Regions from separate parts of the Homo sapiens genome. Here region 2 is linked to region 1. Evidence: fine-mapped expression QTL. Tissue or cell type: whole blood. Region 1 holds a variant in brackets; the other region holds the start of a gene. All regions are shown on one strand. Distances are from middle to middle.

The links. PIP is the estimated chance that this variant, and not a neighbour inherited with it, causes the effect.
Region 2: it holds the start of DCST2, and the variant in region 1 is fine-mapped to the expression of DCST2 in whole blood (TOPMed, PIP 0.96).

The regions. Positions count from the first base shown.
Region 1 is chr1:155,059,747-155,062,246 of GRCh38, reverse strand. ADAM15 (ADAM metallopeptidase domain 15) reads right to left here. Exons shown (of 23, transcript NM_207197.3): 17 at 2,273-2,345; 18 at 1,904-2,042; 19 at 1,415-1,484; 20 at 758-832; 21 at 272-343; 22 at 1-2. The region is part of intron 1 of DCST1-AS1 (DCST1 antisense RNA 1); the gene reads left to right. It overlaps ADAM15-EFNA4 (ADAM15-EFNA4 readthrough), which reads right to left. Exons shown (of 26, transcript NR_176418.1): 17 at 2,273-2,345; 18 at 1,904-2,042; 19 at 1,415-1,484; 20 at 1-2. Among named protein-coding and RNA genes, the nearest start is that of EFNA4, 2.7 kb to the left of the region's middle. The variant T/C (reference allele first, on the strand shown) is at 1,151.
Region 2 is chr1:155,032,286-155,034,785 of GRCh38, reverse strand. DCST2 (DC-STAMP domain containing 2) reads left to right here and starts at 1,005. Exons shown (of 15, transcript NM_144622.3): 1 at 1,005-1,352; 2 at 1,522-1,692; 3 at 2,018-2,119. The coding sequence starts at 1,085. DCST1 (DC-STAMP domain containing 1) reads right to left here and starts at 962. Exons shown (of 17, transcript NM_152494.4): 1 at 932-962; 2 at 689-814; 3 at 226-351; 4 at 59-133. The coding sequence starts at 749.

The DNA.
Region 1 (2,500 bases):
GACTGAGGGAGAGAAGGCAGGAGGCCGGCTTAGGTGGGGGGGTGTCATGTTGCCCACCCCCAACGCACTGGTGCTGGGGAACACCAGCTTGGGGGCAGCACCAGCGGTCACCCTTGTCTGCAAACAAACCTGTCACCATTAAAGGCACCACCGGGATATGTGCCCTCATGCACTGAGGGGGCATCTCGCCACGGCCACCACCGTCATGGCTACCAGCACCACAGCCCTAGGTGGGGGGAGAGGCCGTGCCCTTCTCTCCCCCCACCGTTACCTTCGGGCTTCTCACCACCGGGTCAGCGGGCAGAGGGCGGGTAGGGGGATTGGGTCGGTCAGCCAGCTCAGCCTGAACAGAGAGAGGGGCAGTGGCTGTGAGAGCATAACCAGGGGCTGTGGACATGCACAGAGATTCCCCAGAGGGGTTCAAGTCAACATGCAAAGTCAGCCAGGGGGCAGGAGAGAATGAGGGCATGCGCAGAGGGCTTGGAGGCATGCCAGCTGATGTCTCAGGGGAGGAAGGTGTAGGTCAACCGCAGTCCCTGGCCGACTGCAGTCCCGCCATTGACCACCAGATGGTGGTAGAAACCAAGGCAGGAGGCTCACCCTTTGCTGCTTCTGGGGCTCAGAGTGTCTGAAGGCTGAGGGGCACCCCGATCACCTAATGAAGAGCACCACTGGCAGGGAGCAGGGATGAGAACTGCAGTTGGGTACCAAGCCTCCCACCTGCCTTGGCTCAGGGCGGGCCCTGGCCCAGATTTACCTGGAGTCTCTTGGACACAGGGTCAGGCGGCAGCGGCCTGGAAGGGGGGGCCGGGAAGCTGAGAGCACTAGCCTGCTGAGAGGGCAGGAGGGGCAGATAGGCACAGAGGGGGAAGAGGAAGCAGAGAGACAGAGTGGGCAGGGAAGGGTCAGTGCCCAGGGGGGGCCAGCAGGGGCCCAGGGCAGTGGGTGCTGTGCATGCAGTTATGCAGGTGCATGCAGGTGGGGAGCGAGTGGGGAGGAGGTGTGCACACACTCCCATCATCCAAGCAGAGGGCTCAGGGTGGGGATGCTCACCAGCCCTTCTAACATGGTGACCTGGGCCTACGGAAGGCCATTCTGAGCACCACTGCCCTTGTGCCCTCCTGGGGTCACTGCTGGGGGCATGGATAGA[T/C]CCACCTCTCAAAGCCACCTCTTGGCCAGCGGACGGAGCCCAGCAGCTCCTGCTCCAGCTGGCTGCCCTCCCCACTCTTCTGGACTCAGCTTCCCTGCCTGTAGCCAGGGGAGGGGAGGGCAGGGCTGGCCCTGACTCCTTCGACTGACTCTTGGGCAGTGCTAGCCTTTCTCTGAGTCTGGAGCCTTTAATGCGCACCCCCCAGGGCCCAAGCTGGATGCCCGGCCAAGGTGGAGTCCCCTTCCTCTGGCATCCAGGACTCACCTTAGTGCCTCGTGCCAGCAGGGCCCTCTGCGGAGGTCCTGGCCGTTCAGAGGGACCAGATTGGGCTGCCCTATGCATGAGGAAAGGCAAGAAGGGAGAGGGCCCAGCCTCAGACCCTGTTTTCTACCATATGCCATCCCTGAGTGGGGTTAACCCTTTGCAGGCACTTATGTGTGGTTTAGGTAAAATTGTGGTAGGGCCGGGGTGGGGGGCAGTATTTATTAGCTTGAGGGAAGACCCTACTTATCCAGCACAGGGGCTCCTGGGGAGAAATGGCCCTAGCAATCCAGCCACCCCACAGGGGCACAGCTGTGAGGTAAAAAGCTGTGGGCACATATAGGGAAGGGAGGTGTGGGGTATGGCAGTCAGCAACTTTAAGGTCCAAGGGGCCTGGGGCTCAGAACCAGGTGGCAGGGGCTGCAGAGGTGAGGCAGCCTTCAGCACTGTCCCCAGTTGAAGGAAGTGGTAGCAGGGAGGTGATGCTCATACCTGTACTGGCAGGTGGGTCCCTTGAGCTGGCAGAGTCGCTGGTGCAGGCGGGCACGGTACCAGTAGCTGGCACCAAGCATCACCAGGACCAATAAGACCAGGAGGCTGAGGAGCAGCCCTGTGGTCAGGGAGCTGGTTGCTGTGGGCGGAAGTCAGGTTTAAGGGAGGACGGGGCTAAGAACTCTAGATCCATGAAGGCGCAGGGGGCAGGGAGTGAAGTCAAGTGATCAGGGAGAGTGAAGGGTTCAAGGGGCACAGACTCAGGGAACCAGCAGCAAAGGGGGGTCAGAAAGAGAGGGCCGAGGGGGCAAGATAAAGCATGAGACGCTTTGCCCTCCCAGCTGCCCCTGTCCCCCACCCCCATGCTACCTTTGAGCTGAGTGGTGCAGTCAGGGGGTGCCCAGCCCTCCTCACAGTAGCAGTGCCTGTTGCTGTCACAGACCTAGGAGGTACAAGGCGAGCAATGAGGAGCTCTGCACTCTGGAACTATTTCCTTGTCTCTAGCTTTTCAAGATCTCAGATTTCTACAACTGGGGGTTGTGCTGGGTATGTGTGTAGAGACAGCCCGGAGGGAGGGTCTTTATCCATACCAGAGCA
Region 2 (2,500 bases), 27 kb after region 1:
GGACGGCGCTGTGTTCCACAGGCCGCTTGAGTGTTCCTGGCTTTTGCCCAGCACTAACCCACCAAGCTGTACAAGAACATAATCTTCTGTTCTTCGTAGATGTTCATGGGGTTCACCAGGAGCTGAAAGAGACCTAAGGGCACAAGGTCAAGCCAAAGGCCAAAAGATGGGTCCTAGCCCTGGTCCAGCCTCTGCCCACCCCGAACTTTCTGCTTCCACACTCACCTATGGCCAGGAGCCCCCCAGCGCCTGCCCCCAGCAGGAGAGCAGTGACAGGAAACTCGCCCGGCTGGCGCCACAGGAACCAGCTACAGGAGACTGGCAGCCCCCAGGTCAGGAGCCTCTGCACCGCTAAGAGGGGGACAGGGTAGCTCAACAGCCCACTCTTCTGCCTGGGATGGGGCTCATTAGGATTCAGGGCTTGCAGGTGGATAGAGGCTGGGGAAACCTGGCATGTGAAACAGTAGGAACTTAGGGGACCCTGGAGGAGGATGAGGGAGCCTGAGGAAGTGGTATGGGTGTAAGGGACAGCAAAGGCAAGGGCTGGGCTGGGAGGCGGGAGGCACTAGACCAGAGAGGTGGTGGAGGCGCGGACACCGAGTTGGGGGATAGTGTGCAGGAGTTCCAGGAGGAGAGATGGGATGAGAGTGGAGGTCAAGGGATACTGGGTCTCTGCTGAGTGACTCACTGGTATGAGGCTGTTTTCTTCTTTGCCCTCTTGTGCCATTCTGATGATGTTTAATGTCCATGAGTCTGTTTTGGGGAAGCACCACTCATCCCAGGTCTCCTGAAGGACCTCCTTGGACACAAGGTTCTGGTGAGAGAAGAGAGGTGCTGCCTGTCTCTTCCGCTTCATGGGAAGCCTAGGCCTGAGCTCTGGGCCTTTTAATCCTTCTGCTCCGAGAAGTGGGGAAGGAGATTAGAGACCTACCTATCCCCTCTCCAGTCCTCGGAACTGGGTCAAGGATTCCAAGACATATGCAGTGAAAGCCCTTTGGAACCTTAGAATACGGTGAGAAATTCCAGGAGCACAGAAGTCAGCGGGCATCTCCTGGAGACAGGCAGACATTTGGTCTCAGCAGCCATGCCCAAAGTCATGAAGGATGTTGTGCACCCCTTGGGGGGAGAGGAGCCTAGCATGGCGAGAGCTGTGGTTCGCAGCGTGGGAGGTTTTACCCTGGGCTTGTCTTTAGCCACGGCCTACGGGCTTCTGGAGCTACTGGTGGAAGGCCACAGCCCCTGGGGTTGCCTGGTGGGCACCCTCACTTTGGCTGCCTTCCTTAGCCTGGGCATGGGATTCTCTCGCCAGGTCCGAGCCACTGTCCTCCTGCTGCTGCCTCAGGCCTTCTCCAGTGAGCTTGGCACCCAGGGCTAGGGGGCAGGTCCTGGGGCTGGTGCTGGGGCAGAAGAGATGCTGGAGGAGAGGCAGGGGTTAAGGGAAATATTCTGAAGGCTTATGTAAGGGACTTGCTGCCATGTTTGGGGCTGGGGTCTTGGTTCTAACAAAGCTGTCGCCCCCAGGGCAGGGCCGGACACTACTGTTGGTGGCTGCTTTTGGGTTGGTGCTTCAAGGGCCTTGTGCCAACACTCTACGCAACTTCACCCGGGCCAGCGAGGCTGTAGCCTGTGGGGCAGAGCTGGCCCTGAACCAGACCGCCGAAGTGCTACAGAGGGCCAAGCAACCTCTTGTCAGTAAGTCCCCCACCTCTACCACTGTCTCCCACGGGCCCCCCTCGCCCCCCTCATCCTGCATGTTCTACAGTCCTTTGGCCTCCTTCTCTGCTGGTGCTAATCGCGGAGCATCTGGGCCTGGAAGGGACTCTGGGCACAGCTAAACCCTCTCTCCTTGCTCTCTGGCCTCCTCCACTCCCAGATTAACGATCTCCCAGGCCCCAGAATCCAGGCTTCCCGCCTCTGGAAATGGTGGCCTCCTCTCTACTCCCTGCTTAAGGGGCAATGGTGAGAACCAGCCCCTAGAGGAGAAGACTCCAAAGTGCCTCTGTCCCTCACCCATCAGGTGCCCTGAACAAGATTAAAGCTATTGCCCGGAAGACCAAAGAGGTGGCTGACCGGGTCCGCAAGTTCTTTCGGTCAATCATGGATGGTGTGAAACACATAGGTAAGCACATTAGCATGTCTATCCCGGGGACTCAAAATGCACCCAGTCCTGGCCGGGTGCGGTGGCTCATGCCTGTAATCCCAGCACTTTGCGAGGCCGAGGTGGGAGAATCACTTGAGCCCAGGAGTTTGAGACCAGCCTTGGCAACATGGCGAGACCCTGTCTCTATAAAAAATAAAAAAATAGAAAATAAATAAAACTAGCCAGATGTAATGACACATGTCTGTAGTCCCAGCTACTGGGGAGGCTATGGTGGAAGGATCTCTTGAACCCAGGGGTTTGAGGCTGCAGTGAGCTATGATCGTGCCACTGTACTCCAATCCAGCCTGGGTGACAGTGTGAGACTCCATCTCTAAAGAAAAAAAAAAGCGGGGGGGCCAG